3 linked regions of the Homo sapiens genome follow. Each later gene encodes a partner of the first gene's protein in a complex. Each region holds a gene or a part of one and is shown on either strand. Other genes may lie near its edges. A codon is read from its position in the direction of its gene.

What was found. Proteins that work in one complex are often made in the same cells at the same time.
Region 2: the proteins of TNNT2 (region 1) and TNNC1 are in contact, whole or in part, in a crystal structure (PDB 1J1D), measured with the Homo sapiens proteins. Residues at the interface, in NP_001263274.1 of Homo sapiens: Gln266, Tyr269, Asn272, Val273, Asn276, Arg277, Asp280; in NP_003271.1 of Homo sapiens: Asp99 (codon at 725), Phe101 (codon at 719), Arg102 (codon at 716), Asp105 (codon at 707), Ala108 (codon at 482), Asp109 (codon at 479), Gly110 (codon at 476), Tyr111 (codon at 473), Arg147 (codon at 365), Tyr150 (codon at 356), Asp151 (codon at 353).
Region 3: the proteins of TNNT2 (region 1) and TNNI3 are in contact, whole or in part, in a crystal structure (PDB 4Y99), measured with the Homo sapiens proteins. Residues at the interface, in NP_001263274.1 of Homo sapiens: Glu214, Lys217, Lys218, Ile221, Leu222, Arg225, Arg226, Lys227, Leu229, Ile231, Asp232, Leu234, Asn235, Glu236, Leu239, Arg240, Ala243, Lys244, Leu246, Trp247, Ile250, Tyr251, Leu253, Glu254, Ala255, Glu256, Lys257, Phe258, Asp259, Leu260; in NP_000354.4 of Homo sapiens: Arg68 (codon at 1,549), Glu71 (codon at 1,540), Lys72 (codon at 1,537), Ala75 (codon at 1,528), Leu76 (codon at 1,525), Arg79 (codon at 1,516), Gln81 (codon at 1,510), Pro82 (codon at 1,507), Leu83 (codon at 1,504), Leu85 (codon at 1,498), Leu88 (codon at 1,489), Gly89 (codon at 1,486), Phe90 (codon at 1,483), Leu93 (codon at 1,474), Gln94 (codon at 1,471), Leu96 (codon at 95), Arg98 (codon at 89), Leu100 (codon at 83), His101 (codon at 80), Arg103 (codon at 74), Val104 (codon at 71), Asp105 (codon at 68), Val107 (codon at 62), Asp108 (codon at 59), Glu109 (codon at 56), Glu110 (codon at 53), Arg111 (codon at 50), Tyr112 (codon at 47), Asp113 (codon at 44), Ile114 (codon at 41).

What each region holds. Positions count from the first base shown.
Region 1 is NC_000001.11:201,367,417-201,375,065, forward strand, and holds part of TNNT2 (troponin T, cardiac muscle), read right to left. Parts: intron 5,986-7,649; exon of another isoform or gene 5,853-5,985; 5' UTR 5,839-5,852; coding exon 5,798-5,838; exon of another isoform or gene 5,703-5,797; intron 4,740-5,702; coding exon 4,729-4,739; intron 4,626-4,728; coding exon 4,611-4,625; intron 2,430-4,610; coding exon 2,400-2,429; intron 812-2,399; coding exon 746-811; intron 391-745; coding exon 355-390; intron 1-354. UniProt on the Homo sapiens protein: Troponin T is the tropomyosin-binding subunit of troponin, the thin filament regulatory complex which confers calcium-sensitivity to striated muscle actomyosin ATPase activity.
Region 2 is NC_000003.12:52,451,042-52,458,243, forward strand, and holds TNNC1 (troponin C, slow skeletal and cardiac muscles), read right to left. Parts: upstream 3,001-7,202; 5' UTR 2,975-3,000; coding exon 2,951-2,974; intron 1,473-2,950; coding exon 1,442-1,472; intron 1,212-1,441; coding exon 1,065-1,211; intron 818-1,064; coding exon 703-817; intron 487-702; coding exon 350-486; intron 266-349; coding exon 234-265; 3' UTR 59-233; downstream 1-58. Other genes in the region: NISCH (nischarin), read left to right, coding at 4,601-4,693, 6,802-6,885. UniProt on the Homo sapiens protein: Troponin is the central regulatory protein of striated muscle contraction. Tn consists of three components: Tn-I which is the inhibitor of actomyosin ATPase, Tn-T which contains the binding site for tropomyosin and Tn-C.
Region 3 is NC_000019.10:55,154,733-55,161,797, forward strand, and holds the start of TNNI3 (troponin I, cardiac muscle), read right to left. Parts: upstream 3,001-7,065; 5' UTR 2,858-3,000; coding exon 2,847-2,857; intron 2,577-2,846; coding exon 2,564-2,576; intron 2,402-2,563; coding exon 2,318-2,401; intron 1,913-2,317; coding exon 1,871-1,912; intron 1,601-1,870; coding exon 1,469-1,600; intron 99-1,468; coding exon 9-98; intron 1-8. Other genes in the region: DNAAF3 (dynein axonemal assembly factor 3), read right to left, coding at 4,330-4,717, 4,801-4,875, 5,167-5,278, 5,908-6,043, 6,333-6,455, 6,561-6,686, 6,911-7,065. UniProt on the Homo sapiens protein: Troponin I is the inhibitory subunit of troponin, the thin filament regulatory complex which confers calcium-sensitivity to striated muscle actomyosin ATPase activity.

The sequences.
Region 1 (7,649 bases):
TGCATTGGGATTTCATCCTACGGACACCACATCCTACAAGTGATTTCACCTAAGCTCTAGGAGCTTCATGTGTGGATATGACTTCTGGGTCCCATTGCTCTGTCCAGACCAGGGGGCTGGACAATGGTCCCCTCTCCCACTGGGTGCCACCAATGCAACTTCTCTGGGAGAAGGGGCAAAGTTGAAAGCTCAACATCTAAAACTTTGGAAGTGCCACCAAGTTCTGTCCTCTCCTCTCCCAAACCCTCTCAGTGCACATCCACTTCCCTGGAAAGAGCACTGTGGGCATTCTCCTCCAAAGCTGCTGTGAGGGGTTCCTTTGCCTCCCTTGTACCTCTCTCCTGATATCCTTACCTTCAGCCTCCTTTGCTTCCTCTTCTTCTTCATCTTCTAAATGAAACACGAGAAATCAATCAAGGTCCTTGTTCTGAGCTCAAGTCCCCCCCTCCGCCACCAGCAAGAGCCTTCCCCACAGATAAGCCCTAGCCAAGATGCACTCTGTTGGTTTTTGGGGTTACAGAGCTGTCTCTCACACACACATTCCCCTGGACCCAAGACTGCCTGACACAAGAGAAGCGCTGGGTCAACGTTTGTTGATTGGGCAATCAATGGTTGAATCTTAGTCAATAGGAGAGTCAGGTGCACATGGGAAAGCCTGTTCTGGGGGGTTTCTTACTGCCTCAGGAATGGCTCCAGGGGCTCTCGCCACCCCCTGAGGCCCCTGCACCCTCAACCAGAGACTTACCTTCTGCCCTGGTCTCCTCGGTCTCAGCCTCTGCTTCAGCATCCTCTTCCGCTGCCTCCTCCTGCTCTGGAGAAGTGAAGCAGACAGAGTGAAGAAGCAGGCCCCACTCATGCTATCAGGCAGAACCCAGAGCAGAGAATGGGCAGCGGGGAGTGGGGATGGGGGTCAAGACGTCTAGGTCCAGATGAATTTGGGGGCAACCAACGTGCTGGGGGGCTGCCATTCTTGGTTTTGACTGTCGGCTACCTCCCGCCACCCAGCTTAGCCCCACTCATCCCGGCAACCTCCCTGATGATGGGACTCCACCTCATTCCCCAACTTTCCAGCCCAGAAGTTCCACCCCGTGTCTGGCACCACAGAACATGCTCTGCTTAAGCCGAGGTGTCCAGAAGCTCCTGTCCTGAACCTAGTGACTCTAGACACCCTCAATCCACATCTCAAAGAAACCAAAAGAGTACGACTGTGTGGCTGGATGGCACACTCAATATCTGGATCTTCGTACTATCCAGAAAGTGGGCAGGATTTTTCTATTTTCATCTATTTGTTTGGCAGGATGTGGCCCCCATCTCACTCAGGCACTTGGTGTAGACAGACAGACAAACAGATAAGGGAGACAGGATGCCGCCTGGCCTGGGCTGTGCCTGTAGGAAGTGTTCTGTGATGCCTGTTCACTGATGCACTGGGAAGTGGGTGCCTCTTGGCAGAGGGAGAAGAAAAACCTCAGACAGGAGGAAGACACCATCGTGGGAGAAGGGTTGGCCTTCATTCCCTCTGTCCTCCCTTCCCAGGTCTGAGTCCTCTCTGAAGCCTGGAGATGCCTTTTATTTGATCCCTGCAGGAGTCTTACCTCAAAATGATCCTTCTAGAAAGTGTGAAAGCAGAGGGCTAGCGAGGAAGGACATGGCCATTGTGGGGTCTACCTTTAGGCCATCTTGTTCACACCTCTGCCACCTCATCTGACGTGTCATTTCTCTATATAATATACCCCAGCCCACCCAGTGGCCATGCAACATCCCAAGGATGGGGAGCTTACTGCCTCCCCAACCCACCTACTGCATCTTGAGATATAGCTGTCAGAACGCACTTTCTAAAATTAAGCCCTGGTCTCACTCCCTTGCCTTGGTCCTGTGCTCCCCATCAGCAGGGCGCATCTGAAGGCTGACGTCATGTCCTTCCTGCTCTGGCTATTTCCAGTCTCCCTGGCTGCTCTCCAGAGGACTCTGTCCCCAGACCCCCCAACCAACACCTGGCCACCCTGCTTGGTGCTGTCCAGCTCCTAAGGAGGGCCCAGCATGGAACACTGGGGTGTGCGCGGGGGCAGGGTGGCGCTGCTGTCTTCCAGGTGCCAGGTCCCCTCTATGGCCACATTTGGAGCAGCTTGGGAGACCAGCTAGCCTTGGTCCCTCCCACCACCCAACCCAGGGGAAGGATCCAGGAACCAGGAAGAGGAGCCAGTGGCCCTGAAGTTCAGGCATGATGATCAGCTTGGAACTGTGATCCTGGCCCCTGGGAGGCAGGGGAGGAAACGACTGACCCACTCCGTCCCTGCCGCCTACTCACACCCCCCAGCCCCCAGAACAGGGCCCCTGGACAAGGAGGCTGCACTTGGGACAGCAGGCAGCAGAAAGCACCACAGAAGGAAAGGCTGTACTACCGTCTTCGTCCTCTCTCCAGTCCTCCTCTTCTGAGGTTCAGGGAGTGGCCGCAGCGGAGGGGAAAAGCGAGACAGGTTAGTCTGGGAGCAGAGAGCCCGCGGCAGGAGCAGCCACCCAGCGCAGTGGTTTTAAGAGTGTGGGCTTTGGAGTTAGGCCGGCATTCCAATTCCCAAGCCACTACTTTCCAGCAACAGGGGCAACTCTCAGTTACTTCCCTGAGCCTCAGGTGCCTCATCAGTAAAATGGGAATCATTCTACTCACTTCTCAGCCGTGGTGAGGACTGAATGACCTAGCGTGCATAGAGCGCCCAGCAGGTGCCTGGCACAAGAGGAGCATGCGATCTGTGGTAACTGCAATGCCTCTAGACGACAGAGCCTTGGCCTCCTTCTTACTAAGACAGAGGCCCCTAAAGAGCAGAGAGTGGGGGACAATTCTCTTCCATCAAATTTCCTGCCCTCAACGAGCCTGCCCATGTTCCTGCTCTGAATGAGGCTCTTGGGTATCCTGCAAACTATGTCCAGTTTCCAGGAGTCACACTTTAGAAAGCCTCATTGGAGAGCCTGGCCCCAGGGGAGATTTGCCCGGCCTGTTGGGAGGATGCTGCCCCATCTAAGAAGGGTCCAGCATTATAAATCTAAGGAAAGAGGCTGCATCTACAACAGTTGTTCTACGTACAAATATCTGCCCAAAAAAACAGTTCCAGCAAGTGGAACAATTCCTCTCCTGGAAGAAGGACACCTGGCATTATCTATCCTGCAGGCTTAGTGGACACCCATCTAGACGTTGCTCTCTCTTGATCATTTGCAGCCAGATCCTCAACTGTGTGGGAGGCAAGTCTCGTCTATTCATGGCAAGCAAGGCAGATGCTACACGGCTCAGGCCCCAGCACAGTGGAGAATGACTCTGCTAACTCACAGCCAAATTCTACTGTGTGTGGCAGGCAGATTGGTCCCAAATCCAGAGATCTATGTCTCAAACTCCACCACCCTAAACCTGTTATAAGGAAGTGGAAAATCCTCCAAAACAAAGGAAGGGATATCATATCAAGAGTCTGTTCAGGGAACACAGCAGAATTTGGAGCCAGTTAGATTTTTTATTCAAAAATATATTTCTGATAGCTTCTGAAGTATCTGGTGTTCCTTAAAAACCAAAAAAGACGCCTGTGGCCTCTTTCAGTTTCTCCTGTGAATTTCTCTTCTGTCTCCTCTTTGGCCAGACAGCCCTGGAACAGCCCTAAATGTGCAGGAGGGTCCCCATTTTCCCTAGGAGCCATGGGGAGCAAGGGCGGGGCCACCTGGGCTCCCCCCTTGGACCTTCATAGAGACCCTTCTCCTAATATCTACATGCCACATGCTGAAGTGATACCTGAGCCACTAAAAGGCAGGGTCCACCTGCCTGGGGTGCAGGGGGAGGACTGGAGTGAAGCCTCTGAGTCATTTCCATGTGCCAAGCTCTCAGGAAGAAGGGAAGGTGAGGGCGTTCTTTCAGGGAGATGTGGGACCCACAGCTGAGGAGGGCGATGGGTTAACCGATCAGCATAGGAGCAGCAAGAGGGGCCTCTGCAAGCTCAGAATCATGACAAATCTTCATGCCGAGATAAGACGTCTCAGATCACTGAGCAATTTCATACTCACAATCGCATTTGAGAAATTACTAAATGGAATCTTTTGGGGCATATCATGGCATTGTGGTTATGGTTTTTAAGTAGTGCTTATCTCTTAGAGATACGGTGTAGCGAAATCTTGAAGCGTGAACTGACATGGTGCCTGGGAACAATTTTGGATGTCTGCTCCAAAATAACTGGTGGAAGGTGGAGTATAGAGGAAAGAAGACTGGCCCTAAGATGATGATTGTTGAAGCTGGTAATGGGTACCTTGGGCAGGGGGGGCCATTATTATTATTATTGCTACCTTTATGTGCATTTAAAATTTCCCATGATAAAAGGGAGAAGAAGCAAAAAAAATTGGGAAAAGTGATCAGTGTGTTTGAAGCAAATGGCAGACAGAAGAGACAGGTTTAAATCGTTTGCCTCAAGACCCGAGCAACCCAGGTAGGACTGATTCCCATTTTAGAAGGCACTGTTGTTGGAGGATCTTGCTCAGCTGAGAGTGAGGAGCAGGGACAGATGAGCTGCTTTCCCAGGGCTCCCAGGATTTCCACATTGCTGAGCCTGCCCCTTTCTGGCTCTCCACCTGCCTGAGGCACATACCTTCAACAGCTGCTTCTGCTCAGAAGAGAAGTCCAGGCAGCAAGAGAAGAGAGAAGAGGTGGGTCAGTTTCGAACCAGGCTGTCTTTGATCCAAATGAGTACACACGTTTACGCTTACCTTCCTGCTCCCTGAGAGCAACAGGAAACACTGTCAGTAGCTCGCACACAAGCACATGCAAACACACACGCCTGCACACACATGCACACACTGGCCTTTCCCCAAAGATAATCCCCCTTTCTTTTCCCTTGTTGCCTAGTGGAGTCCACGCTGCCCTGCCCACCTTGCAATGACACCCACTAGCCTGGCCTGCCGTTCTCATGCAGGGCTGCCTCCTACCATCCTCCGCAAGCCTCCGCCCCAGCCAGCTTGGTCTCACCAGCGTTCTGCTCACTTACTCTTTCCATCTTTGCCCAAGCTGTACCCCTTTCTAGAAAGTCCTGCCCTCTCCCAAATCTCTTATCTTTCCAAATTCTACACAGGTAAGACCTGCCTTCTCCACACAGCCCCCTGACTATTCCAGCCCCTGATCTCCCTCTCCTCAGAACTCCTACACTACCAACAGCCCGCCCTCCACACCAGGCCCCCAGTTGCTAATTTCTTCTCCCAGTTTATGTCTTAACATCTCAACAAGAGTAAGTTCTGTGAGGGCAGTAGCCGTGCCTATACCTCTGTCTCCTCCCTGGTGACCACTATCCTCTGTAGTTATTGGATTGGCTGTGTCCCACCCCCTGGTTTCCCTCTGGGATAGGACTGTGGGCAGGGCACTGTCATGAGAGAGTAGGGATCCAAGACAGGGTGATAACACTGGGTTCTGAGCTGGGGTTTGGGGGGCATAATCAGCTCTGTGCCTCTGGAGAGTCACTGAACCTTCCTCAGTCAGTTTCAGGAGACCCAACATCTCAGCTTCTCTGTTCATGGCCCCTAGCCAAGACTGGCCAAGGACACTGATGACCCTGGAGCTGAACCTCTGTGCTTCCCGAAGTCTCTCGGCCTGTGCTCTGCCTGGGATCTACAACCCAGGGGTACAGGAGTGGAAAGGAAATGGCTATATCTCTCCTCGGGGTGCCCAAAACACACACAGCTACTTCTACCCAGAATCCGAGGGACAGCTGGGAGGCTCCTGGACCAGGTGTCAGGGCAGCGGCGGGAGAGGACCCCACTCAGGCAAGATGCTCCAGATACTCACTCCTCCTCGTACTCTTCCACCACCTCTTCTATGTCAGACATGGTCTCTGCTCTCCCTCCAAAAGGAGAAAAAAGTCAGTGCAGGTACAAAGGGAAGCCTGCCTTCCTCAGAAGAGCTCTGGCCCCCGTTGTACAGAGATCAGCGAGGCCTAGGGTGAATCTAGTTCCACCCCTCATGAGCTGTGTGACCTGCAACAAAAAGCCTGTTTTCTCCCCTGCTGGGGGAGATAGTGACACCCACATGGCAGCAAGGCCACCTGCTGATGTCCACTTCGTTCCTTGCCCCTGAACAGGCAATACTGCCTGGGATGCTGCATTTCCATTTGTGACACTCAAGACAATGTCTGCAGTTTCTCAACCTTTCCATCCACTCTGCCCACCCCCACTCCACAGGATCTGTTCAGCACTGTACAAATCTTCACTGCACAAAGCCTCACTGCAGCCTCAACCTTCTGGGCTCAAGCGATTCTCCCACCTCAGCCTCCTGAGTTGCTGGGACTATAGTTGTGCACCACCATGCCCGACTAATTTTTGTATTTTTAGTAAAGCTGGGATTTTGCCACATTGCCCAGGCTGTTTCGAACTCCCAGGCTCAAGGGATCCTCCTGCCTCAGCCTCTCGAAGTGCTGAGATTACAGGCGTGAGCCACCACACCCATTCCATGTGTGCTGGACAAAAGTGAGACCTGGACAAAAGGTCTTTGGGCACCCCAAGAGACTGGCCTGGACAAATGAGTGAGAACTTGTCTCTAAATAAATAAATCAAAGCACACAGCGGGGATCCTTGTGGTTTGGGATCTTTTCAGTATGTAGACTGTGGTGATGGATACGTGAACCTCCACAGGTTAAAGTTGTTTAGAGTTTCACATACACATGGTGCAATTGTGGGCAAATCTGAATAAGATCATAGATTGATTGTATTGATGTCCAATCTTGGTTTTGATATAGTACTAATTTTGCAAATGTTGCCCTCGGGAGAAACTAGGCACCGTGTGTAAACGCTCGTTATTAAAGACAACTGTGTACTAGTCTTTAATTATGTCAATGAAAATTCCGATTAAAAAATGTTCCCCCAGGGAACTCATTCTGAGATCATCTTCTCACTGCACTGGGAACAGATAATCTAGATTCAGATCCTCTTCCATTAGCTTGCCGAGGGTGTTTAGGCGAGTCTTTTTAACATCTCCAAACCTCAGTCCTTTCTCTGTCTCATGGAGATAAAGTGTACACATCCTGGCTACTCAGGGTCTTTACGAGGCTCCAGTTGACATTAACAAAAGGGGAAGGCATTAGGCAACATCAGGTGTTACAATGAGCATGTAATCACAGGGAGGGGGCAGAGAGCAAGCACTTGAGTGTGAGACTAATCTCGTTTTGAATGCTGGCTCCAGCATGCGTTTGCCTGCGACCTTGGCAAGGTCACTTAACCTCCCCACATCTCAGCTCTCTTTGCTGTGAAATTACTGCTCTTCTTGGGTAGGTGTGAGGAACAGAGGTAGTGTGAAGTGTAGGCATTCAGCTAATAACTACTATGACCCAACCCTCCGGGGCCATGACAGTGCACTGCTCCAGGGACACAATCACGTTGTTTGAAACGTGAACAGCAGCCTCTGTTATAGTGCAATATGCCAGCTCCACAGCCTTCCTGATGTTGGCTTCCAAGGGAGAGAATGGACAGGGTGATGTGAGAGTGAGGCTAAAGTGAGGCGGGAGAAGAATCCAAATGATGCTCAGGACCACCCTCCAATGCTCCTCCCCTGCTGCCCACCTCCTGCCCCACTCACGCGTGCCAGTGCTGCAGCACCAATTTCAGACCCAAGCCTCAGGATGAGGACAGAGGCACATAGACAGTCC
Region 2 (7,202 bases), on another chromosome or scaffold:
AGAGTGGGTCCTGGGGATGAGTCCACGGCCCAGGGACACCAGAGCCAGATAGCAGACCTTGGGAGAGCAGGCTTTATTTGCATCCCCCAGGACAGATCTGGGGAGGGAGTCGGGGGATTTGGGGTTGAGGACATGGCCAGGCTCAGGTCCTGGGACCCCGACCCCCTCCCCAACCCCAGGACTCAGCTGGAGTTGGAGGCTGGGCATAGGCAGCTCTGGGTGAAGGTCAGCATCTACTCCACACCCTTCATGAACTCCAGGAACTCTGTGGAAAGAGGGGCAGGTGTGGGTTGAGGGTAGGGGCTGGGCAGGGCATGGAGGCAGGAGATCAGCCCACCCACCCGCTTACCATCATAGTCGATGCGGCCGTCGTTGTTCTTGTCTCCGTCCTTCATGAGCTCCTCGATGTCGTCCTCCGTGATGGTCTCGCCTGTAGCCTGCAGCATTATCTTCAGCTCATCCAGGTCGATGTAGCCATCAGCATTTCTGTGGGGAGGGGGCTCAGGGTAGGGCTGTGGGGAGGGCATGAGGCAGCCCCACCCATGCCCCAGGAGGCAGAGCAGGGACACTGGGAGATGGGGCATCCCTCTCCCCTATCAGGCAGAGGCCACAGGGTCCCTAGGCCTGGAATCTGAGACTGCCCTCCTGTACAGCTCGGCTTGAGTGTGGGTCAGGGTCAGAGGTCAAGGGTCACGTGCTCACTTGTCAAACATGCGGAAGAGGTCAGACAGCTCCTCCTCAGATTTCCCTTTGCTGTCGTCCTTCATGCACCGAACCATCATGACCAGGAACTCATCAAAGTCCACCGTGCCGCTGCCTGGGGGTGGGCAGCATGGCCGTTACAGAGGCCAGGGTAGGTACTGCAGGCAGCACCTTCGACACGAACCCCCATGTTCTCACCGCATCCTCACACCAAACGCCAGGCTTGTGTAGCCCTTATGCCCATTTTATAGATGAGGCAACCAAGGCTCGGATAGGCTAAATTGCTCCCAGCTAAACAGAGCCAGCATTCCAGCCCCCAGCCAGCTGGGGTTCTTCTGGAGCCTGGGGAGGAGGGGGCTCACCGTCCTCGTCCACCTCATCGATCATCTCCTGCAGCTCCTCAGGGGTGGGGTTCTGGCCCAGCATCCTCATCACCTTGCCCAGCTCCTTGGTGCTGATGCAGCCATCCTCAGCGCCCAGCACGAAGATGTCGAAGGCTGCCTTGAACTCTGTGTTCAGGGGTTGGGGGGCACAGTAGTCAGGGCTCAGCAGCCAGGACCACGGAGGGCCAGAACCCTGGGGCCACCTGCCAACCTGCCCACCTCCCTCGGAGACCTCTCTGAGGGCAGAGCAAGAGGGACCAAGCCTCTGGTCTCTGGCCTGGGGTCCTCTTCTGATAAGGGGTCCCCATGCCAGCCTGGACCCGCTGGTCTCCCACATGTGTGATAGGGATTCTCACCATTTTTCTGCTCTTCTGTCAGCTGCTCTACCTAGAAAGGAAAGGGAATCTCAAGGCTCAGACTCAGGTATAGCTGCTGCTGAGGAAACCAACCCATTCCACAGGTGAGAAGGCTGGAGCTGGAGGAGGCAGGCTATTTCCAGGCCACAGAGTGGAGGTCTCAGTCCTCCCTCCCTGCCCCCAAAGCCCTGACGTGACCCAGCTGGCCTCACTGCGACTGGGCTCAGGGCCAGGGTGACAGGTGGGCACCCCCTTCAGGACCAAGGTGACCCTCAGTAACAATAGTCAGTGACCACTCAATGCCCTTTCGGCCCCTGATGAAACTCAAGCTGGGTGGCCCGAAGGACAGCTGTCCCTCAAGTTGGGATAATAAAACCAGTGTGGAGGCAGGCAAGCCACCCACGGTAACCTGACCAGGGTGGCCACTGGGCTATTTTTAACGAGGAACAAAGTTAAACCTGGTGATTGTTCTGGGGACTTTGGCATGCAGGGGGTGGGGCAGCGTTATCTGGCCCCCTGGCCTGCTAGTGCCGCCTCAGAAGCCAAAATTAGTCCCCAACTCCGCCAGGCCTTGTATGGGCACTGGGTGGAGGGCTGTCCCAACCCCGGCTCCATGGACTCCCACAGGATAAGCAGGCGTGCCCCCAGAGCTGGCTATAGCACTTCCCTGCCCAGGAGTGAGGGAGGCTGAGGGAGGGGTTCCCCTGGGGACAGCTGGCCATGCCAGGATGTCCTTGCTCTGGGGTTGGGGGAGGTCACCACCACCCAGGATAGAATAGCATCTGAAGACCCTCAGTGACCCAGGAGGTTGCAGGGGCTTGGGGTGACCACTCTCCAGCCCTCATTCCCTCGCTCTCACCCCTAGCTAAGCCACTGAGCCCTGAGCCTGCCAGGCATGATGGGAGCTGGGGCCCCAGTTCTCTGTTCCTTCTTCCTTGGTTCTCCCTCATGTCCAGAACTTCCCTGCCTCAAACTTCAAAGCCCCATCTCCAGCCCAGGACTCAGGCTCTACAGACCCCTCCTCTCACACCCTCCACCCTCCAAAGCATCTTCGGCCCGCCAAGGGGCTGGAGTGGGGTGGCAGATTTTGAGCATGTGAGAAGCAGAATGTGAGGGGCAGAAATGGGGGTTGGGGACAGGGAGACAGTAATGGGGACTCAGACAGCTCAGGAGGAAGAGATGAAAAGAGAAAGGCAAAAACGTCCAGAGACAAATGCAGAGACATGTGGCTGAGCGACAGTGCCACAGACCACAGACACTTGGAAACAGAGAGTGAGACACGATGCTGAAAGCTGCAACCTCCTCCACCACCCTTCAGACCCGGAACCCCCTACCCCTTCTGCATCCTCAAACACCAGAATCACTGTCCCTGTGAGGGCCTGGGTTGAAGGCACGTAGGCCTTCTCCTTGGTCCCCACCACTTCCCTGGGGCTACTAACCCCGCACTCTCAGCTGAGTGAGCCCCCAGTGGGCCTGCCCACCCCAGCCCTACCCAGCCCTGTCCCTCACCGCAGCCTTGTAGATGTCATCCATGCTGGCGGCTCACAGGACAGCTTGCTGGGGTTGCCAGCCGGCCCTTGACTTAAATAGCCCTGCCCCGCTGCATTCCTGGCCCAGCCCAGCCCAGCCCAGCCCACCCCTGCGTGTAGTATCCTCCAGCCCCTCCTCTGGTCCCAGTGATCTCAGGCTGGCCTGAGTCCCCACGTCCTCTGCCCAGGGCAGGGAGCAGACGAACGGCTACAAGGACCAGGTTTCTTTCCCTCCTGTCCCCCACACTCCCCAAAGGGACTCTCTGAAAAGGTTTCTGGAATGAATGAAAACATAAGCCCAGTGCAGGACAGGAGCTACAAAGTCGTGGGCCCCAGGCAAGGTGCAACACAACAGCTCAGGCTCCCATCCAACCAGGTTGGCGGGTTGCCATGACCTCCACTTTCCAGATAAGGAAACTGAGGCTCTGGAGGAGTGGTGACTTGCCCAAGATCTGACTGACTTGGTAACCCCCGCCTTTAACTAAACCTCTCTGGAATGGGGGTGCAATGTGCAAGGAGAGGCTAGGAGTGCAGGGCCCTGCCAAGAGAAGCCTCGAATGCCAAGCTCATAGTAAGATGCTGTGGAACTGGTGAAGGAGGAAGTGACTGACCCACCTTAGGACAGGGTGGCCAGGAGCCCTTCTGCCAGAGGAGCCTGTCCCAGACCTCCCATCTGCCCAGGGAGAAGTACCCACTTCGGGCTTAAGTCAGCTGCTCTCAGTTATTCAACAGCACCCCTATAGATGCCCCATCTGTGGCAGGCTCTTTCCCTCCTCACCCTCCAATTAGGTTACCACCTCCCTCTTCTAGGTCTCATCTTTCCCCGGTTTAGGATTCAGCACTGTAGTTCCTGGGTCCAGATCAACCTGTCTCCCTCGTTTTGAACTTTGGCAGGCCACCCCGTGGGGTTCTTGTGCTCAGTGGCAGCACACACCCCTCCATCCACCTACACCTTCCTTCGTACAGAGTTCGTATCAAGTTTATCCCTCTTGATAAACACGCTCCCTGCCTCGAGCACTACTGCGTGCTGGGCCGCGCATCAATCAACCCACTCAGTTGTCCAGAAGCCCCACTGACAAGAGATCTCCGAATCTCAGAGAGGTTCAGAACTGGCCCAGAATCACTCTCGCCCTGCTCCGGCGGTAAGCACAGGTCCTATTTTCCCCTCCAACCTGCCTTGCCCTAAAGAGAAAGAGCCCAACAGCCAGGTGAGGCACTATTATGGCCTCCTTTATCAGGAGGAGTAAACTGAGGCCAGGAAGAGCAGTGACTTGCTTCGTGTGGCCTGGGAGACTCGGGACCTTCTGTCCCCTCTTCCCGAGGACCCAGGGGCGATGCCCAGAGCTGTCACCACCCGGGGTCTCAGTTTCTAGCAGGCTGTGCAGGGTACCGCCGGCGGCGCCACGCAGGTAGATTACGCAAGCGAGCACCTCGCACGCGCGCCCTGAGTGGCCCCTGTCAGTCACGCGCGGGGGCGGGGCGAGGGCGCAGGAAGAAGGCGGGGCCAAGATGGCGGCGCAGCGCGCGGCGGGGGCGACGGGCGGCGGGGGCCGGGGGGCGGTGGGACGTTGACCCCGCCCCCTGCTGCTGCTAGTCTGCGCCGGGCGGCGGTGGCGGCGGAGACCCGAACATGGCGACCGCGCGCACCTTCGGGCCCGAGCGGGAAGCCGAGCCGGCCAAGGAAGCGCGCGTCGTGGGCTCGGAGCTTGTGGACACTTATACGGTGTGTTGGGGGCGCGGGCACCCGAAGCGGGGGTGGTGGCTGGAACCGGGAGTCCGACTCGGGGGCTTGGGGAGGGGTCCGGGATCTGCAGCCCCGAGGAGCGGGTAGAAGGGTCTGCGATTGCGAGGAGGGGGCTGGGACGGGGGATCTAGGAAAGGGATCTGGGCCCCGCAGGTCCGGGAGAAGGGTTGCTCGGGGCCCGGGGAGGCGGTTTGGAAAAGGGTACGCGATCAGAAAGGGAGGCTCGGGTTGGGGGCGGCATCTGGGGATAAAGGGGGCTTGGGGAGGGGGGTGTCTAGATGAGGCGGAACCCCTCTAGATCCTCTAGGACTGGAGGGGCCCCGGCCTGGAAGACCGTTACAGGGGTCCAGGAGGAAGGCGATGGGGAGAGGGTCTCTGATGGATGGAATCAGGGAAAAGGGTCAGGCTTCGCAGGCCTTGAAGAAAGAGAAGGCGTCAGGACCCTGATCTGGGGAGCCTGAGGTGGTGGTTGAGATTTTCTCTGAGAAGTGCAGGAGAGACCTGGGGAGCAGATGCCTTGGGGGTCGGGCGGAGACAAGACCGGAGGAGGGGTGGAGCCCATCTATGGAGAAATGGGGGTGGTCTCAGTGCTAAAGCGCAGGCCCTATAAGCCTTAGGAATCTTCGTGACTTTGGGCTGTGGGAGCGAGATGGGGCAACAAGCTGCCCACACACACTTCTAAGCTATGGGGGAGACAGAGGACAAATAGCGGGTAGTTCCCGACTTTGACGGGGTTGGATGCCAGGCCTGTGAGCCTGGTGGGCTGCCTGGCAAAAACCGGCCCTGGACTAGGCATAGAGCACCTCCCTGCCTCCTCCCCTTTGTTCCCGCAGGGTAGGGAGTGGGTGGGGGCCTTGGGCCTGCCTGCACCTCCCCTCCCTGGCCCTCATCCTAACCTTCCGCTCTGAGGGCCATTCTTCTGGCTCTTTTCTCCTTTCCTGAAGGCAAGGGGAAGGAATCAGGCAGGATGGGAAGAGGAGAGGGGTGGATCTTGAAGCAACAGGCCAGCCTGGAGAAATGGCTGCTCCTCAGGGCTGGAGGAGGCTTCAGCTCCATGCTGCAGAGAGGAGGGGGAAACTAGGTGCAGGAGGCGGGTGAGGTCTCTAAGCTGATGGCTGACTGGCCATCAGCTATGGGCACATTCAGCCAGAGGGCCATCTTCAAAAAGCTCACCCTATTCTGGACTGCGCCCCTCCTCTGCATGTATGTCGGGGGAGGTGGTGATCTAGTTTGGACCCTACCATCCTCTGTCTCCGGGTGTGCCGAGTTGGACATTATTAACACACCTACCTTTTGAACACTTGCCATGGGTCAGGCCCATGTACAAAGCATTTTACATGCATTGCCTTACTTGGTCCTTGATTCTAAGATGGAGGAACTAAGGCTCAGAGAGAACTTAGGCTCCAAGTTACTTATATAAGTGACACATAAGCTGCAGCCAGGAAATGGCAGAACCAGGTTTTTAACCCAGGCCTTCCTTAACCTCTAGGCCATATTGCCTCCTGATAGAGCTTAGTTGCTACCACTCCCTCCCCACATCAGCTGCTTGTGCCTTGATTCCTGGCTCAGCAGCAGAAATCACAGCCATGAACCAGTTGAAAGGGTTGGAAAATGACTTGCTTCCAGGAGGTAGTCAGGGCACCTGGAAAGAAGTACAACAGAGAAGATGCTCAGGCTAGAACTGGCCCTGCTCTGCCTCCCTTGGAAGAAATGGCCTTGCCTGCAGCTCCGGTTGGGTTTTGAGTTACCTAGAGGCAGGAGGTAAAAAACTAAAGAGGTGACTTGTGGTAATCACCTTTTTCATTCCTTACTGATGGATGGAGCCACATGCTTGTCTCATGTGCCTCCCAGCCCTAGTGCTTGGGCCATGGAGGAAGCTGAGAGGGGCCCTGCTGGTCAGCAAGGGTCAGGTGCAGAGGCTGGTGGGCAAGGGCAGCCTGACTTTGGCCTTGGGGTGGGTCTGAGTTGCAGAGAGAAAGACTGATAAAAGATAATTGGGAAAGATAATTGCAGCTTTTGCTGCTGGGGGAGGAGACTCCTTGTTGCTGGGCTCCCTTGCCACAAGGGCTGTTGGTTTCCCCTTTTAGGTTTACATCATCCAGGTCACTGATGGCAGCCATGAGTGGACAGTAAAGCACCGCTACAGCGACTTCCATGACCTGCATGAAAAGGTAACTGTTAAGAGCTGGGAGCACGTATCTCAGGGCTGGGGGACCCGTAGGCCAACTTTCCATTGTGCCACATATTAGTTTTAGGGCAAAACAGGTTCCATCTCTATAGTTCTTTAATAAACCACTTTGTTAATATAACTGCGTTCATTAATATAGCATGTAAATGCTAGCCTTCAGCTCTAGCATGAGCCACTCTGCAAGGAGCATATTTGAATTTCAGTTTTAATATTTCCAGTCCTAGCTTGGGTATGAGATGCTCAGACAGTTTCCTGGGAAGGGGACAGGTTTGAACTTGTTTGATCTAGCGATAGCTATTC
Region 3 (7,065 bases), on another chromosome or scaffold:
CGTCCCACCTCCGTGATGTTCTTGGTGACTTTTGCCTCTATGTCGTATCTCTCTTCATCCACCTTGTCCACACGGGCGTGGAGCTGTCGGCACAAGTCCTGGAGGAGGAACGTGGTGTGTGTTGTTGGGGGAACCAAAAACAGGGAGACCTGGACTCCTGGGTCTGAGGGAGAAGGGGCTCGGGGCCTGGACTCCTGGGTCTGAGGGAGGAGAAGGGGCTGGGGGCCTGGACTCCTGGGTCTGAGGGAGGAGTTGGGGGCCTGGACTCCTGGGTTTGAGGGAGGAGAAGGGGCTGGGGGCCTGGACTCCTGGGTCTGAGGGAGGAGGGGCTGAGGGCCTCGATTCCAGGGTCTGAGGGAGGAGGGGCTGGGGACTGGACTCCTGGGTCTGAGGGAGGAGGGGCTGGGGACTGGACTCCTGGGTCTGAGGGAGGAGGGGCTGGGGCCTGGACTTCAGGGTCTGAGGGAGGAGGGGCTGGGGACTGGACTCCTGGGTCTGAGGGAGGAGGGGCTGGGGCCTGGACTCCAGGGTCTGAGGGAGGAGGGGCTGGGGCCTGGACTCCAGGGTCTGAGGGAGGAGGAGCTGGGGCCTGGACTCCAGGGTCTGAGGGAGGAGGGGCTGGGGCCTGGACTCCAGGGTCTGAGGGAGGAGAGGCTGGGGCCTGGACTCCAGGGTCTCAGGGAGGAGAGGCTGGGGCCTGGACTCCAGGGTCTGAGGGAGGAGGGGCTGGGGCCTGGACTCCAGGGTCTGAGGGAGGAGGGGCTGGGGACTGGACTCCTGGGTCTGAGGGAGGAGGGGCTGGGGCCTGGACTTCAGGGTCTGAGGGAGGAGGGGCTGGGGCCTGGACTTCAGGGTCTGAGGGAGGAGGGGCTGGGGCCTGGACTTCAGGGTCTGAGGGAGGAGGGGCTGAGGGCCTCGATTCCAGGGTCTGAGGGAGGAGGGGCTGGGGACTGGACTCCTGGGTCTGAGGGAGGAGGGGCTGGGGCCTGGACTCCAGGGTCTGAGGGAGGAGGGGCTGGGGGCCTGGACTCCAGGGTCTGAGGGAGGAGGGGCTGGGGCCTGGACTCCAGGGTCTGAGGGAGGAGGGGCTGGGGCCTGGACTCCAGGGTCTGAGGGAGGAGGGGCTGGGGCCTGGACTTCAGGGTCTCAGGGAGGAGGGGCTGGGGACTGGACTCCTGGGTCTGAGGGAGGAGGGGCTGGGGCCTGGACTCCAGGGTCTGAGGGAGGAGGGGCTGGGGCTTGGGCTTCTGTCTGGGATAGGAGGGCCACATGGTCCTGAAGGAGTAGGTTGGAGCCAAGACTCCACAGACCTGCACACAAAGGGTGTTAGGGGCCAGGAGTCCCACGAACCATATATAATTGGGTAAGGACAGCCATATTGGACGCCTGGGTCCCGAGCAGAAGAGGGGATAGAGGCTGTACTGCTGAATTCCGGGACTAGAAACCTCGCATCCTTGGGAGCCGGTACCTGCAGCTCCGCGAAGCCCAGCCCGGCCAACTCCAGCGGCTGGCAGCGGGTGCTCAGAGCGCGCCCCTTCTCTCCGCGCCGCTCCTCCGCCTCTCGCTCCAGCTCTTGCTTTGCAATCTGCAGCAGCAGAGTCTGCAGAGGGGTGGGAGGGAAGCGCAGCCCACCCGGGGCTTCAGGATAAAGACCAGGCGTGGGGAACCGCCTCTGCCCTTCTAAACCCTCCAGTTTGGTCTCCACTGTTCCAAGGCCCCGTCCCACCCCGAGCAGTACTCCCCGCTAAAGCCACGCCCCGAGCGGCCAAACCCCGCCCACTTCCGCCCACCTACCCCGAAAGCCCCACCCATTCTCAAGCTCCGCCCCCTGAGCACCTGCCTGCTCTTTCCCAGTCCCGCCCGTCCTCACCTTCAGCTGCAATTTTCTCGAGGCGGAGATCTTAGATTTTTTCTGCCAGGGTGAGATGGAGCAAGGAAGGATCATGGAGGGGGATTCGGAGACGACGGTGGAGGGGACCTCAAGACACCCCCAGCAAACCCAGCCGGTCCAGATTTGGGCCCACGTCCAACTTGAGCCCTGAGTCTACGGGAGGCCACGCCCCTCATTCCCATCCACCAATCTGGGTCTCTTCCTTTGGATAGGCACTTCCCATCTATCCCTAAGCAAGTCCGAGGGCAACGGAGTTCCGCCCGCAGGCTGCTGTCACCAATCCGAGCATGACCCTCTGCAAAACTCCGCCCCTGAAGCCCCTCCGCGTAGTCCCCGCCCCCTTCGCAGCCCTGGCTCCTCCCCCCACTCCCAGGGTCTTGGATCCCTCCGGCGCCTGTACTCTGCCCCCAGGAAGCCCCGTCCCACCTTGGCGTGCGGCTCCGTGGCATAAGCGCGGTAGTTGGAGGAGCGGCGTCTGATTGGGGCTGGTGCAGGGCGAGGTTCCCTAGCCTGGGTTAGGAGGAGTGGGGACCCCATCACCACCAAGACCCCACCCAGCCCTTACCGTACCGCACCCTCTGCTAGGGCTGCAGCCTCCCGCCCCAGACCCCTCACTGCAGCGCCCACCCTGGCCCTGGGGGTCCCAGCCACGCCTTAGCCCGCTGCTCTCACCGCATCGCTGCTCCTGGAAGGAGAGAAACCAAGGAGGGGGGTTAGTGGTGGGCTGTGTCCTGTCTCCTAAGGGACCCCTGGAGTCCCCTCTGAACAAGAGGTCGGGGGACCGCGCTTCCCCTTCCTTGGGTTCCAGGAGTCTGACTCGCAAACCCACTTCCTCTCTTCACCCAAGAGTCCCTACGCCTACCTCGCAGGCCAAGGGTCCAGCCTCTCAGCTGCGACCCCTCTTGGGAACCCGGGAGGTCGCCCCCAACTCCCACTGCCTTGGGGCATCACTCACCCATCCGCCATGCTGAGACTCAGGCCGGGAATGGCAGGAGGCAGGGCGAGGACAGGGGCGTTTGGAGGGTCAGTGAGGGGGCCGCCCGGGTGACCTTCAGGGTCCCAGGGACCGTCAGTCTCCTCCGGGCTGCTTGAGACTCCCCGAGGACACTGAGATAAAGGGCGAGGACACAGACTAAATATACTGTCACCTCCTCCTCCCCCTGCCCACTATGCCAGATAACGGGGGCGCGTGAGGGGCGGGGTGGGCCCTGCTCCAGCTGGATCACCAGCCACCTCCGGGCACAGGAATCCGGACCCTCCTCCCTCTGATCCTGGAGTCCTAGACCCCTCCTCCCTCAGACCCAGAGAATGCCCGACCTCCCAACCTCCTCCTCCCTCAGTCCCAGGACCCTGGGAGACCCTGGCCACTCCCTCACACAAGGAGTCCAGGCCCCCAGCCCCCTTTTCCCTCAGACTCAAGTGTCTGGGCCCCCAGCTCCTCTTCCCTCAGACCCAAGAGTCCAGGCCCCCAGCCCCTCCTCCCTCAGACCCAAGAGTCCAGGCCCCCAGCTCCTCTTCCCTCAGACCCAAGAGTCCAGGCCCCAGCCCCTCCTCCCTCAGACCCAAGAGTCCAGGCCCCAGCCCCTCCTCCCTCAGACCCAGGAGTCCAGGCCCCCAGCCCCTCCTCCCTCAGACCCAGGGGTCCAGGCCCCCAGCCCCTCCCTCAGACAAGGGAGTCCAGGCAGGCCCCCAGCACACTTCCTCTCTCAGACTCAAGAGTCTGCACCCTCAGCTCCTCCTCCCTCAGACCAGGAGTCCAGGACCCCAATCCCTCTCCCCTCAGACCGAGGAGTCCAGGACCCCAATCCCTCTCCCCTCAGACCCAGGAGTCCAGGCCACTCAATAAATGTTGTTGATTAATTTGAGGATGCAGCTGTGCTCGGGGCTAGCTCTCAGTCAATAGCACTGGGAAATCCATCCCTCGTCCACTTGGAAACCCAGGAATCTGGTTTCTGGCTTCCTCTGTCCAGCACTCCTGGGCCTTTCTCTCCCAGCCCTGGAGACGGACATAGGACAGGAAAGACGCTTGGACACACAGAAGGGTGGACACAACTTGCTTTACTTGAACCATCTGGGTGCTGACCAGGCCCTGGTGAGGAGACACCCCAGCCCCTAGTCAGCCACAGGGTGCCTGGGAACAAGGGGGCCAAAGTCAAGGGCCTGAGACTCAGTGTCAGATCCTAGGCTGGGCTTAGAGCCTCAGAAGTGGAATTTGGAATTCTGAGAGAACAATCTAGAATTCTAGGAATAGACCATAGAATCTCAGAAATGGAATTTGAAAGTCTACCAACACTCCCGGGGTGGGGGTGGCGGGTACTGAGTGGGAATGATTAGAATAAAATTGAGGACTCTAGCAGCGGACTTAGAATGGTATCAGCGGGTTCTCATCCTACAACCTGACTTTGGAAGTTGGAGATAAGGGGTGTCTAGGGGTTGGGTCAGACTCCAGTTTTGGAGTCTGACTCACAGTTGGGCGGAGCCAAGGCCCCCTGAGGCTGAGCCAGAACCTCTGAGAGTGAACCTGGAGACTCAGAGGGCAGCTGGCAGGGCTCACAGTGTGGGGTCCCACCCTGCAGAGGCTGGGTCAGGCCCTCAAGGGCTGGGTTGCTGGCTTCAAGAGGCTGGGCCAGGATGTCAAGGGGCGGAGTTCCGGGTTCCACAGCTGGGACAGTGTTGCCCAGAGCTGATTCCTGGGACTTGCAGAAACGTGCGAAGGTCTCTGAAGGCCTGGCCCCGGTCTGTGGAGCAAATCCAGCTGCCTGAGCTAGCTCCCTGACCCGGGTGTTGAATCCCTGCAGCTGCTCCTGCCGCACGTCCACCAGGTACCTGCAGATGGGAAGCGCCCTGTCAGGGACCCAGATTTTGATCCCCAGCCAGGATGTTCCCCACCCTCCACCCCACTGACTCACCGGGCTAATTCCACAATCAAGTTCCCTCCGGGTGCCACACAGGCCCCAAGCTCAGGGATGAGAAGATGGACCATACTGCAGAGAGGACGGAGGACAGGCTGAGATTCAGCTCCAAATCCGGAGGGAGGATGGGGCTCTGGGATCCCAGACAATGAGGGAGGAGGGGTGGCAAAACTGGAGTCTGGGTCCTGGGGAAAGAAGGGAGCAGGAGGTCTGGACTCCTGGGTCTGAGGGAGGAGGGGCTGGGGGCCTGGACCCCTGGGTCTAAGCAAGGAGGGGCTGGGGGCCTGGACTCCTGGGTCTGAGGGAGGAGGGGCTGGGGGCCTGATCCTGGGTCTTTGTGAGCACAGCTGCCTCCCCGCTTACCCACAGGCCACATAGAGGAGCTGGAATCGGCCGTTGTAGCAGCTCTTGTGGTGGAGAGTCTGAGCAGAATTGAGCGGCAGGAAGTGGACGGTGAAAGATTCCGGGGTCGGGGCTGCTGGGGGAAGGGGATAGAGGGGTCACCTCTGACAGGCGGAGCCATAAGGGCGGAAAACCAGAGAGATACACAGAGCTGGGCAGAGCTGGGCAGGCACACAGGACTTGGAGATAACACTTTTTGTCCTCTTGCAGCTTTTTAAAAAATCCTCTAAGGTAGGCTCCTGGAAAGTTCTGGGAAGGTCAGCCTGGCAGGCAGAGACTCACTGTACAGATCAGGCAACTGAGACTCTAGAGAGGGAAAGAGGGTGGGTGGCCAGGGCCACATGTGACATGCCCTGTCAGACAGACACGCAGGGAGGGCCAGGTTGGAGGATGGCTGGAAGGAGGCCCAGCCAGGATCCAGGGTGTGGGAGGCTGTCCAAGGGGGAGCTGGGACCCAGCACCCTGTGAGAATATTCTTGGATAGCTTAGCCCTCTGCAGATAAGATTAGAATTCTGCTAGTGGAATTCAGAATTCTAAGCATGCTCTCAGAATTTAGGAAAGGGAGAGAAAGAGAGAAAAAGAGACAGAATATCAAGAAGCCGTCACTTGCCCAGGCATTCCAAATCATGTCAGTCCACACTCCAGTGTGAAACACCTGGAGGCTGGAGTCCCTGGCTTACCTGTTGTTGTCCCTGGCTTACCTGGAGTCCCTGGCTCCGGGCTTCCCTCCGCGTGCTGCTGCTCCTCCAGGTCCCCCCCGGTGGCTCTCGCGCGCCCCCAGGCGGCCACGTCGCGGAGCAGCTCCGTCACGTTGTGTTGAGTGATCTCCCCGGCCGTCTAACAGTAGAAGGGGCGTGGCCAGACGTCGGGGCCAGGATGGCGGGGCGGGGCTTAGAACGCTGGGAGTCCTCGGTCCAGGACTAGAACTCCCGCAGCTGCTTGGAGGATGTGAAGTGGGGCGGGACCTATCCCGCGGGGATGGGGCCTGTTCTCTGAATGGAGTCGTTCCCACCAAGCGACGGGCGGGGTCTGGAGCTGGGGGCGGGGCCTGCTGTGGGGGCGGGGCCTTGCGCACCCACCGACCCCCAGCCCCACCTCTACCCCCAGTCCCAGCCTCGCCGCGCACCTTGACTGGCTGGCCGTTGCTCGTCCGCAGGAGGCTCTCGTCGTCCGCTTCGATGCCGAAGGCCACGAAGGGCCCCGTGGCGATGTCCCCCCAGTACCCGCGCGCTGCCACGCGCTCCCCACGCTGGAAAAGGAGGGAGAGAGGAGGCAGGTGAGGTCGATGTTGGGGCCCCTGACTCCTAGGACTCCGAGCAGCAGCAGTGGGCCAGGACAGGCAGTGGACACGCACGTAGCTCAGGAGGCGACCGGACGCCAGGGTCCGGTTGGGCACATGATAGGCGCTGGAGTCCCTGAGTTCAAAGGCGACGCCTGTGTCCCGCCAGCGTCGGAACTCCTGGGGGTGAATGACTTGAGCCTGGGGTGGGGGGCGGGAAGAAGGGAGCCCTCAGTGAACCGAGCGTGGAGAGACCCCTACACCAGCCTCCCTCAGACCCAGGAGTCCAGGTCCCCAGGCCCTCCTCCCTCAGACCCAGGAGTTCAGGCCCCCAAACCCTCCTCCCTCAGACTCAGGAGGCCCCCAGCCCCTCCTCCCTCAGACCCAGGGGTCCAGGCCCCCAGCCCCTCTCCTGGGCCCCTCACCCCGCGGTCATGCAGCTTCATGCGCAGGTCCCAGTCGCTGACACCGCGCCGGGCGTCGTAGCGGGAGCCCAGGTAGTGGCGCAGGCGCGAGTCCCAGAGGCGGCTCATGGGGAACGCCTGGGGCCCTTTCTCGCCGCCAGCCCAGAAGCGGAATA